Homo sapiens: one gene and its partner. The protein of the gene in region 1 binds, or shares a complex with, the protein of each later gene. Each region holds a gene or a part of one and is shown in the gene's direction. Other genes may lie near its edges.

Region 1 (8,736 bases):
AACTCCGGTCTGTCCTGCTCCAAGGCTAGTGAGAGACTTCAGAGCTCGTGCCAAGAGCTCTTCTGGGCCAGGCACAGTGGCTCACGCCTGTAATCCCAGCACTTTGGGAGGCCGAGGCGGGTGGACCAGCCTGACCAACGTGGAGAAACCCCCATCTCTACTAAAAATACAAAATTAGCTGGGCATGGTGGCACATGCCTGTAATCCCAGCTACTCGGGAGGCTGAGGCAGGAGAATCGCTTGAACCTGGGAGGCGGAGGTTGCGGTGAGGTGAGATTGCTCCAAGAGGGAAACTCTGTCTCCAAAAAAAAAAAAAAAAAGCTCTGCTGGGTGTCTTTTTCTGGCTTTTGCTAGAAGCCCATGATGGTGGATTCTAAATGGGAAGGGCCTGGGGTGATAGTCCTGTCCGGCCCCCTCCTCCGGGCAGATCTGTCAACTTTAAGAGAAGTTGAGTCAACAAAGCTTTGTTAGGAACTGGCCCTTGTGGTGCTGGGCTGGGCTATTTTTAAAGGCCTTTGGAGACGTGGAACAGTTTTGGGCAGAGAGAGAGTTGGCCTGGGTACTTTTCCTCTGTCGAAGCCCTTATTAGGGGTGGGCCGTTGGAGGTGGCGGTGGGTTCATTGGCCTCCTGTCTGCCTCCCGCGCTGACGTCAGCTCCCTAGTGCAGGCCCTTGTGTGTGGAGCTCACAGCTGTGTTCCCCCCATGTGTTGGCCTTTAGTAGGTTCACAGAATGAAAAGTCTCCCAACAGGACAAGCAGAGAAAGCTTCCAGCTTGTTCTCCCGCCCCCAGATGGGCTTCCTTCTGATGGGGAGTGGAGCCATCTGCTCTTTGTTCTGGGGGATTCTGTGTATGGGGTCAAGAGAAGCGCCCCAGGAAGGACTCTCAAATGTCAGAATCTCCTGGTTGATTAATAAACATGAAGGTACCTGGGCTGCCCTCCCGGATTTCCGATTCTTTAGGTCTGGCTGGGGCCCAGGAATTTGCATCCTTGACACGTGTTTGTGCTGCAGATGGTGGTCCTGGGGAGCCCGGATTGAAGACCACAGTTCCAGTGTATGCTGGGGGTCCTAGCCCACCTCATGCATAGCTGGCCACAGTGCCAAGGGGGCCTAGAGGGGAGCCATGGGTCCACGTCCGAGTCGGTGCTGGGCAGTGTCCTTGGTGGGCGTCTCTGGCTCTGTCTGTGGTGGTCTGTGTGTGTGAGGAAGCAGGAGTGTCTAAAGGCCCCAGCAGTGTGGCCCTCACTGGACACACTGGGATTCCACCTGGCTCAAACCCTAACCCAGTCCTCAGCCTTCCACCAGCAACAGGTTAGGGAGAGATGGACAGGGTCACTCTGCAGCCAAGACTTAGACAGTGGCAGTCAGCATTGCGGGCGGCCCAGTTTCTTTCAGGTCTGGCCCACTCTCTTCCAACCTGCTGGTGAGGCTGTTGGCTTCCCCGTGTGTCCCGGCTGTGGGATGGGCCGGTCCCCTCACCTACCTGAGCCTCAGTTTCCTCATCTGCAAAATAGGTGTGCTCATGGCACCTGAACTCAGAGGATGTGAGAAGTCAACAGGGTAACTCATGTGCAGTGTGGGGCCTGATATGTGGCGTGGGGTATGTGGTCAGTAAATGCCAGTGATCGTAATTAATGCTTATTTGTTCATTTTCTTTCTTTCTTTCTTTCTTTCTTTCTTTCTTTCTTTCTTTCTTTCTTTCTTTCTTTTTTTTTTTTTTTGGAGACAGGGTCTGGCTGTGTTGCCCTGACTGGAGTGCAATGGTGCAATCATGGCTCACTTAAACCTTGACCTCCTGGGTCCAAGCAATCCTCCTGCCTCAGCCTCCCCAGTAGCTGGGACCATGGGTGTACAACACCACACCTGGCTAATTAAAAACATTTTTTTTGTAGAGTTAGGGTCTTGCCCTTTTGCCTGGGCTGGTCTCAAACTCTTGGCCTCAAGCAATCCTCCTGCCTTGGCTTCCCAAAGTTCTGGGATCACAGGCCTGAGCCACCGCACCCGGCCTTAATATATATCATTTTGACCATACAATACAGCTTCATCTTGAACTGGGCTTATGTGTATTTTGTGGGCAAATTTCTTCTCTCCACAGAGGAATCTTGCTGACTCTGGTCTTTGTGCCTGGCACACAGAAGGTGACATCTATGACTGCTGTGCCTGAATCCCAGCAGGGGCCTGCTCTTACGTGTAGCGGCCTCCGCAGCCCCACTTGTGAATTGTGAAGCTGCCCTGGCCTGTTCATTAAGTGCTCACTGTGTGCCAGGCATGGAGACAGAGGAGTGGACCAGAGAGATGGAATCCCTGGCCTCAGGAGGAAAGCAGCCGGGTTATCCGAAAACTCCAGCATGGGGGTGCAAGCCATTTGTGGTGGTCTGAGCTGCATCCCCTTAAAGGCTTCTGAGGCCACTGCAGGCCCAAGCCAGCCAGGCCCAAGAGGCACAACCTCTGCCCTCCTCCCTTCTCCTTCTCCTCCCCATGATGTTTGCGGTCCTTCCCAGGGACCCTCGGTCTGGGACTCAGGGGTGGCCACCTCCTCCCTGTTGCCTTTGGTCAGCCCAGGCTCTGCCTTGACCTTGCCTGCCAACCTTGACTCTCCTCTGCCTTTTCCCTAATGCCCAGAATGGTGCCGGCACACAGGAGCAGGTGGAGGGCAGGAGCCCACGGCTGACGCCTCTGTGACCCCGAGCAGAGGACGGGTCCCTGGCTCCAGGTTGGGGTCAGCAGTTGGGTTCTTGGGTGTCTCTGGTTGTGGACTGTCCTGGGGCCCATGAGGGCCCCTTCCTCTAGGGTGAGGAATATTCTCTGATCATCACTCCCCACCCAACTCTGCTCAACCAGGGTGGGCCAAGCTGCTGCCTTCAGGAGGCAGTCACTGGAGACCATCTTGGGACAAAGCTGGGGGTTGTGTGATGGCTGCGTGGGGACATGGAGGGCCCACAGCCAGGCACAGGGTGAGCCACAAGGAGAGGAAAGGACCAAAGCAAGGGAGGGGCTTCGGCCGTCCCTGTACATCCCGTGTGCGTGGGCATGAACCAAGGAGGCCTTTCCTTTCTCTGACAGTGGAGCAGAGCAGCAGCAGGAGAGACTGAGGTGGACTCTCGGCATCGGGATGGGCATCTGGGCAAGAAACATCACCTGTGTTATTAGGAGAGGACTCGATCCCCTGCGGTGCGGGGCTGGGTCCTCACTCGGCCTTGGTGACCTTGGGGAAGTCCCTTGGCCTCTCTGAGCACCAGCTTGCTCATCCTTCAGACCTGCCTTCCAACTCCATGGATCTAAACAGGAGAAGCTTTGCAGTCCGGGGAGCGGGCCAGAAAGACAAAGGGGTTGTTTGGCAGGAGAGTCCCTGGGAGGGAAGGAGGGCTCAGGGGCGAGTTCTGCGGTTCTGGCCCCTTCCTTGGGCAAACCTCCTCTCACCGGCTTCACTTTCCGCCTCTGGAAAATGGGCAGTTTTGGAAGGCCTCAGTGTTGAGGAGGATTCGGGGCATATGAAGGGTTTAGCTTGGTGCCTGGTTCTGAGGGGAACCTTTATTTATTTATATTTTTATTTCTATAGAGATGGGATCTCGCTATGTTGGCCAGGCTAGTCTCGAACTCCTGGCCTCAAGTGATCTCCTCCCATCTCGGCCTCCTGAAGTGTTGGGATTACAGGCATGAGCTGCTGCGCCTGGCCATGAGGGGAACCTTTCAAAACTTTCCTGGCAGCAGCTGGTCCTTGGGGTGCAAGTCTTCCGCATCCAGGGCAGGTGGCCTGTGGCCACCCCCTTGTACAGAGAGGGAAGGGGCAGCTGGTGAATGGCAGGGACTCACCCAGGCCCCAGAGCCCAGCCTCCTCCTCACAGGCTCTTTTTGCCCTTTCTGCCTCCTTGGGCTCCAGGTTAAATGGGACCCAGCTTCTCCCTTCCCTACATCACCCCACAGAATTCTCCCATCACCCCGTGTCAGGGGAAAGCCCTTTTCCCCGGCAGAGGCCTTGGGATCGGACCCAGCTCCTGCTGCTCCCAAGGCCTGTCTTAAACCCCTTTGGGGCAAGGCATGGGCAGTGGAGGGGGGTGGTGTCCTGTCGAGTGGGCCGGGCCCATGTCACCCTCTGAGAGGCCACAGGAAGGAATTTGGACATTATTCGAGATCCGTAGGGAGCCGTGGAAGGGAGGTGATGGAGACACATTAGATTTGGGTTTAGAAAAATTGTTGTTGGCTGCAGTCCCGGAATGGACTGGCGGGGAAGAGGGGTGGTAATGAGACCGAAGGTGATCATGGTGATGAACTGGAGTATCGGTGGGGATGACATGAAAGACAGATTCCAGATATATTTAGGAGGAAGACTCAGTAGGACTTGGTTTCCCTCCCCTCCCCTCCCCTCCCCTCCCCTCCCCTCCCCTCCCCTCCCTTCTTTCCCCTCCCCTGCCCTCCCCTCCCCTTCCCTCCCCTTCCCTCCCCTTCCCTCCTCTTTTTTTTTTTGAAACAGAGTCTTACTCTGTCACCCAGGCTGGAGTACGGTGGCACGATCTTGGCTTACTGCAATCTCCACCTCCCGGGTTCAAGCAAATCTCCTGTCTCAGCCTCCCGAGTAGGGGATTACAGGCATCCGCCACCACTCCCAGCTAATTTTTGTATTTTTAGTAGAGACGGGGTTTCACCATATTGGTCAGGCTGGTCTCGAACTCCTGACCTCAGGTGATTCACTCACCTTGGCCTCCCAAAGTGCTGGGATTACAGGCATGAGCCGCTGTCCCTGGACTCATAGTTTTCATTACCTTGTAAATTTGGGATTATCTACTTTTTATTTTCTGACTTAAAAAAACCTGACCATTCTGAATGTTTGCCCGTATCATGAACTATGCTTTTAGAGCATGATTTTTTTTCATGGTGCATCATATGGACAGAACATATTTTATTTAATCTCCTGTCATTGGACAGTTAGCTTCCTCCTCCCATATTGAAAATACTGAGATGAACATCTTTGTACCACATCTTTGCATGAATGTCTTTGCACTAAATCTTTGCACTTATCTTTTCTTGAAGATAAGAACCCAGAACGGGGTTATGGAGTTAAAAGGCTGGGGATGTTTTGAAAGGCTTTTGATTAAAAATTGTTGAATTGCTCTCCAGAAAGGCTGTTCCAGTTTACATTTTCAGCAAAAGTAGATGAGAGAGTGCCTATTTCTCTGCATTCTTGCCAGCACTGGGTATTACTGTTTTCCTTACTTCTTGCCAATTTTATGGGGAGGAAAAGAGGTGGCTCACTGTGTCAACATTTATTTCTTTGAATACTATGAAATAGAATCCTAGTATCTTTCAGCTGGAGGAGACTCTTGGGGCCAAGTAGTTCAATGCCCTCATTTTACAAGTAGGCAAATTAAGCGCCAGAAAGGTGAAGCATCTTCCCCAAGGTCACACAGCAAATATGTGGCAGGAACTGCTTTGTTCCTGTCAGGGCACCTCCCACTGTGCCAAGGTGAGTTGGCTGTTGGGGTTCAGATAGGGATGTCTTGCCTTCTTTTTATCTATCTATCTATCTATCTATCTATCTATCTATCTATCTATCTATCTATCTATCGAGATGGAATCTCACTTCCGTCACCCAGGCTAGAGTGCAGTGGCGCGATCTCGGCTCACTATAATCGCCACCTCCCGGGTTCAAGCTGTTCTCCTGCCTCAGCCTCCTGAGTAGCTCGTATTAGAATGTGCACCACCACACCTGGCTAATTTTTGTATTTTTAGTGGAGATGGGGTCTTGCCATTTTGGCCAGGTTGGTCTCAAACTCCTAGCCTCAAGTGGTGCACCCACCTTGGCCTCCCAAAGTGCTGGGATTACAGGCGTGAGCCACCACGCCTGGCCTAGGGATGTCTTGACTTCTTCACTGAGGTCTTCTGCTGGGGTTCATCTTGCCCCAGATATCTCTAGCACTCTGGTAAGAAAAAAAGCCAATATAAATTAAAAAGCACATCATCATTATGGTCATAACAAGATGAATCAATTTTCACATTCTGTGTGTGATCTATTTTGCAGGGCAGAGAGTGTCAGAGATTACGTTGCGGCGTTTCTAGGTAACTTGAGATTGGGGTCATATTCTGACCAAGGGCAGAACGGCAGGTGCTGAGGACTTGAAGGTCAGTTCTGCTGTTTCCTGGCTGGGCAATCCTGGCCAGCTCCTTACGTCTCTGAGCTCTGAGGTCCCTTGCGCATGAGACAGGGATGTTTGCACAGGGATCTGCACGTAGTAGGTGCTCAGTAAATGCTCTCCCAGGAAGGAGGCTGCTGGACCGGCTGTATCAGGGACAGCCGTTCTTGGCCACTCCCCTGGGCAATCACAGAGTGAGCTGTCACAGGCTCTTGGCTGAATTGGGAGCGAGTGGCAAACATGGAGGGCCTCTGTGGTGGCCCGGCTGGGTTGGTGGCCGGATTGTTCTGTGTCTGGCTCCTGGCTTGGTGAGTTGGGGAGGGAGAAGGGTTGTGGCAGGCTGGCTTTTAGGCTCCTGTGCGCCCAGGGGCTCAGAGGATGGACAGCAGCCTGCCTGGGATTAAGTCCCAGGACCATCATGGCCTGGACAGTGGCTTTGGAGTCACTAGTTCCCTCTGGGACTCAGTTTCCCTTTCTGTACCATGTTCAAATTCCCAGATAGTGAGACCCAGTGGGGAAGGTACGTCAGGGCCCCAGGGACGGAGTGTGCTTGGGCTGTGGTGTTCAAGACCCAGGCCCTTGGATCTTCTCAGCCTCAGGCATGGTTCTTAGCCTCTCGATACCTTAGTTTTCTTATCTGGGGGTTGGGGATAAGGGACTTCTACTACACAGAGCCGTGTGCGGGGTTAGGAATAACAGACGTTGAACTTGGCGGCTCATCTCGGCCCTCCTTTTGCTCCTGGTGGTGGTGGAGGATCTGCGAGCTGCAGCACGGGACGGTCAGGGGCTGTCACTGCGGTGAGAATCTGGTATTAGGCATGTTCCGTGTGACCCAGGCCTGTCCTTGGTGTTCACGTGTGTTCCTCACCAATTCCACCCAGGAGCCCTGTGGGGGTCCCCTTTTTACAGATGAGGAAATGGAGGCTCAGAGTGGATGAGAGCTGGCTCATGGTCCCACGGCTGGAGAGTGGTGCCATTGGGGTCTGATCCCCGTCCCCTCTCAGCCTGGAGTCTGCACACTGAAGCCCTGGGCCGCGGTGAGGGGCCCCTGCTTGGTGGAGGTGCCAGGGAGCCGCCATGGAGGTGTGCAGGTGAGCGTGAGCGGGCCCGGGTGCCTGGTGTGGGTGTTGCAGGCAGGGCGGGTGCTGCGGGGCACGTGGGCAAGTCCCGATTCACGTGGGCACGCTCCGAGCGTGAGTGACGGGGTCATGGCGTGTGTCAGGAGTGGGTGAGCCGGGCACTCCTGTGCGCACGCGTGTGGTGGTGTGTGAGGGCAGCTCTGTACAGGTTGTAAATGTAGGTGTGCCTGGGGGTGGGGGACGCTGGGGAGGGAGGCACAGACAGGCCGGGAGCCGCGCCAAAGGCTGGGAGCTCAGCTGCCAGGTCTGGAACCAGGTGATAAGCTGCCACTCCCCAAGGCAGTAGGGGAGTATTGTGGTTGGGGGGAGATGACAGCAATGACGACCACCGTTTACCCAGTGGGCACTCGGGACCAGGAGTGCTGAGTGCTGCCCTCTCCCCAAAGCCCTGGGAGTAGGGACCCTTATACCCATTTTACAGATGAGGAAAGGGAGGCCCAGGCAAGTTCAGGGACACGCCCAAGTCCCCCCAGCCAGCCAATCGATGGCCAGTCGGGGTTCAGGCTTAGATCTTTATGTTGCCAGAGCCACGCCCTTCCCACCCGGCGCCTGCCTCCCACCGTCTCTGTGAGCCTCAAAACCTTGGAGTTCCCTGCCAAGGGGAGGGAGCGCCCAGTCCCTGGGAGCATCCAAGCCGCTGCTGGAGCATCAGACACTGGCCAGGCATCCCGGACTCCTGGGCTGGGTGTGAGGTTGGTGGCAGATAGGATCCTTCCCGCTGGTTCCAGAGGTTCTGCCTCCTGCAGGAGATTTGGGGCAGCCTCCGCCTTGCCTTCCTCCAGGAAGGAGGCAGAGTTGAGGCCTTGTGGAAAGGCGGCAGGAGGAGAGGCGCTGATAGGAGTGTGTGGCGCAGCTGTGCCCTGGCCTCAACGGCTTCCTCAGCCTCCACCCACCCCAGTGGAGGCTCAGCAGGTGCTGACCGTGTGTGGGCGCTGGGCTGATCTCAATGGTCATCCTCCCGCCCTGGGAACTTAGGAGCAACGTACCGCCATCTTACGGTGCTGGCACCACCCCTGCTCCTGGGAAGCCTTGTCACGGACAAGGTGGTGAGGACTGAGTGCCCCTGGCCATCCTGCCCTGCCCTGTGCCTGGCTCAGCCCAGGTGCCTTCGGAGGTATCTGTCCGACAGAGAAAGAGACCAAGTCCTCACAGGTGCAGTGTGGGTTTTGGGGGCATGGTGGCCAAGGGGACCCCCGTGACTTTTAGCTCCTTGAGGTCTGGGCCACATCTTGTGGTCTTTGGTGTCTGTGGGGTGTGTGGCCCGGGGTGTCCTCGCCTCTGCAGAAGGCTGGGATCTTTCCGAAGAGTTTTTCCCTGCAGTGCTGTGGTTTGCTCTCCCTGGTGACCAGGACAGGACCTGCCTGTGCTCCTGACCTACAGTCTGTCGGGGAAGGGGGACAGCCAGGGAGTTGAGAGTTGGGTCCTGGTTCCAGCCTGGCTTGCTGTGGCCTCTGGCTGCCCCTCTCAG
Region 2 (3,428 bases), on another chromosome or scaffold:
CAGACAGACGCGTTGGCACAGTTCATGGTTTCCTCCAGAGGAGACATTGGCTTATCATGGGGAAAAAGAGGATCTGGAGAACCTCATCCAGCTCCCCTTCTGAATCAGCTGGGATGACTGGCTTTGAGAAGGAAGGGAAGATGGAACAGGCTCAGATCTCATGGGATAGCACGTGGAGCTCTTGGCTGGGGCTGACCCTGGGCAGGGACTTTCCTGCAGGGCCAGACCTGCCTGCATTCTGAGACAAAGCAATGGACGGTCCGCAGAAGCAGACCTCATTGATTGAGTCCTTTCTTCCATCCCCTTGGCCTGCTCCCTGTAGGAAGTCATCCTGCCAACTGATTTAAAAGGGCTCTTTAGCCAGTTGTTGCCAACCTTATAGGGATGAGTCCCCTGTGAGATTTTGCTTTTCCACTGCCTGGGATGATGCAGTTTGAAGAGGCCCTTGGACCTCCTTGTAACATCAGGGACCTTTGGAGACCATTATCAGTGTAAGCCCTGCTTAGCTCATCTTAGAGCAAAGAGCCAGCACCCTGATGTCCCTGGGGTGGCTAGGCAGGAGTGGCGTGGGGCCAATACCCAGACCCCTTCAGCCACCAGCCCCTGGCCTGTGCCTTCCAACCCATTAGCCATTTCTTGTTGTGCCCCTTTCCAAGATACAGCCTGCAAGTGGTAGCAAGAAGTGATTAGAGGCAGATCTGGACTTGGCAACAGAAGTGGTTTCCCATCTCCATTGTCTGAGTCTGATTTTCGCTGATGCTGTTTTGTGGATTTTTGTGGTAGTGATGGTTGTCAGTGCTGCCAGTTTCCCAAAACGTAATCAAGCCTCTGGTCACATGGCTGTCGATGTAGGCATTCTGGAGTGGTGTTCAGCCAAGTGACCGGGCAAAATTGGGCTGTGAAATTGTACTTCCAGGCTTGGATGTAATTTTTGCTCTAGAGAGAAGCAAGTGGTGGGAAGGAGGTAGCATGACGTGTGGTGTGCGGGTTTCCTTGCTGCCGTCACCTCTCCGCTCATACAGGAATGAAGCCTTAGCCAGGAGGCCAGGCTCAGCCCTGTGCCACTCACCGAAGCCACTTTCTACAGGCCAGCAGGGGCTTGTTGCAGGCTGTGGGTTTTGGTGTGGTTTGTCAGAGGCTAATTCTGCAGAGTTTCCAAAACCAGAAGACATCGTATGCTTGGGATGGGGGCCGTGCCACCCGTGGGAATGCTGCCCGCTCTGCAGACTGCTGCTAGAGCCAGCAACTCCACTAAGGTGGATTTTCATCAGGGGCCTGCAGGGCCCTCCCTTTTCCCATTGTTCCTGCGCTGCAAATTGCAGGCCCCAGCAATCGTGACTGACGTTTGCTCCTTGACTCCAAGAAACTGAGACCAAAGAAGCTGCTGTTCTTAGCAAGATGCGCACTGCATTCCACAGGTGGGAGGAGTCGGAGAGGCAGGGGCTTGCTTTGCAGCCCCACAGACAACAGTTGCACAGTGCCTCAAGCCCCAGAGTGGCTCACCCTGTCCAGACCTTTGAGGATATCAAAGGACAAAGTGCCCAAGTCTTTCCTACCTTGGGGGAACCTGGAACTTGGAAAGGCTCCCTGTCCTAGTCTTGATCTGTTCTGGGCCAGGTCCCAGCTTGAGCTGCCTCTGAGATTTGGGCTGTGCGGATCTCTGGAGTGAGCTCTGTTTCGGTTGACCCAGGTCATGGAATGGAAACGGTGAGGCCCCAGTGGCTGTTCTGGAAGAAACAGATCTCCTGGCAAAGGCCCCAGCATCTCCCTCACTGAAACCAGGTGGCCGGCTCCTCGGACTCTGCTTTATGTTGCGGTGAGAACTCTGCCCAGGTGTGCAGGGTTTGGCTTGTGGGCTGCTTGCTGCTCATCTGATTTTTGTCCCAGTAGTCCCTGCGTTCTTCATTCAACCCCTTCTGGGACTTCAGCTCAGAGAGCACCATCCCGGGGGTCAGGGCCTCCCCACAGGAGCCCTGCAGTGTGGTAGCGCCATGGCTGTCTCAAACCAAGCAAAGGAAGGACCCTGAGGCCTTCACGCTAACCGTCCTCGAGCAACTGCTGTTGGAAGGCCTCCCTGGGCCTGGCCCCCACCCTCTGCCACCCAGTCCTCCCAGCTGCCATGTTTCAAAGACGACCTTTACCTCCTGCCTTTGGATTGACTCTGCATTTGACCACGGACTCCAGTCTGTGTGTAGGGAGAGAGCTGAGTAGGAGGCCTCCACTCCGGATCGAGGCCTGTATAGGGCTCGTTTCCCCACACATGCCTATTTCTGAAGAGGCTTCTGTCTTATTTGAAGGCCAGCCCACACCCAGCTACTTTAACACCAGGTTTATGGAAAATGTCAGGCCTTCCCCACAACTCCTGTCTAACTGCTGTCGCCCCCCTACTTGCTGGCTCTCAGAAGCCTAGGGGAGTCCCTGTGGTCCTGAATTCTTTCCCCAAAGACGACCAGCATTTAACCAACCTAAGGGCCCAAAGGCCTTGGACAACTGCATGGAGCTGCACTCTAGGAGAAGGAGGGGAACCAGATGTTAGATCAGGGGAGGGAGCAGGAGTGTCCCTCCCGTCAGTGCCTACCCACCTGTGAGGCAGCCTTCTGATGGCCTGGCCCACCTTCCCCAGAACCAGGGGAGGCCTGAGGCTTCAGTTTTACTCTGCTGCAAAATGAAGGCGGGCCTGCAAGCCGACTACACCTACGGAGGCTGTTGAGGACAATTTCATTCCATTAAATTAAAAAATACTGACTGGCTGGCAGGCAGGTGCCATGTCTGGGAACAGGGACGGGGGAGCTTCACCTTTTTGTCTTGGCTTTTCTTTGGGCTGTGGGGGGGCATCCATTTCCAGGGTCGGGGAGGAAATACCAAATGCATTGTTGTTCTGCTCAATACATCTCACTTGTTTCTAATAAAGAAAGCAGCTGAACAAAACCTTCTGTCCTGGTATTCCTGGTCAGCAGGTGGCAGTGGAAGAAATGGAGTGCTGGAGCCTAGGCTGGAGCCAGGACGACAGGGCTTGGACACAAAGTCCCTCAAGCCCACAGCACCAGGCCAGCTTCCAAAGGCCTTCCTTTAAGGCTGCCCTTCTTCCAGGGCAAACTTGGTGTTGTCAGACCCTTCCCACCCGCCAGAGACGAGCTGCTATTGACCCAGGTTCACTCCAAGTTAGAGCAGCAACTGGGCTCTCAGCCAGCACCTGAGCACCTCAGCACAGGAGCCGGCCCAGGCTTCCCTAGCTGGGCACAGAGCAGCCCCCTTGGTCCAGGTCAGCAGTGGCTCCTCTGGTGGAGGTGCAGGCCCCGTGCCTTCCCACTGTGCCCAGGTGCCACATCTCTCCTCCTGCACCACTGGCCGGGTGGTTCTTTGAGTCACTAGGGGTGCATTTTAACATGGCAAGTTGCTGGGCCCCAGTAGCTGTGTTTAAGACTTCC

The links. The genes of interacting proteins can lie anywhere in the genome.
Region 2: the proteins of NCS1 (region 1) and NMT1 are in contact, whole or in part, in a crystal structure (PDB 5O9S), measured with the Homo sapiens proteins. Residues at the interface, in NP_055101.2 of Homo sapiens: Gly2, Lys3, Ser4, Asn5, Ser6, Lys7, Leu8, Lys9; in NP_066565.1 of Homo sapiens: Tyr180, Val181, Glu182, Asp183, Asp184, Asp185, Met187, Phe188, Arg189, Phe190, Tyr192, Asn246, Thr282, Ala283, Gly284, Arg295, Tyr296, His298, Ser300, Lys310, Phe311, Ser312, Tyr401, Leu403, Ser405, Tyr420, Gly468, Ile469, Gly470, Asp471.

What each region holds. Positions count from the first base shown.
Region 1 is NC_000009.12:130,174,488-130,183,223, forward strand, and holds part of NCS1 (neuronal calcium sensor 1), read left to right. Parts: intron 1-8,736. UniProt on the Homo sapiens protein: Neuronal calcium sensor, regulator of G protein-coupled receptor phosphorylation in a calcium dependent manner. Directly regulates GRK1 (RHOK), but not GRK2 to GRK5. Can substitute for calmodulin. Stimulates PI4KB kinase activity.
Region 2 is NC_000017.11:45,106,089-45,109,516, forward strand, and holds the end of NMT1 (glycylpeptide N-tetradecanoyltransferase 1), read left to right. Parts: 3' UTR 1-2,928; downstream 2,929-3,428.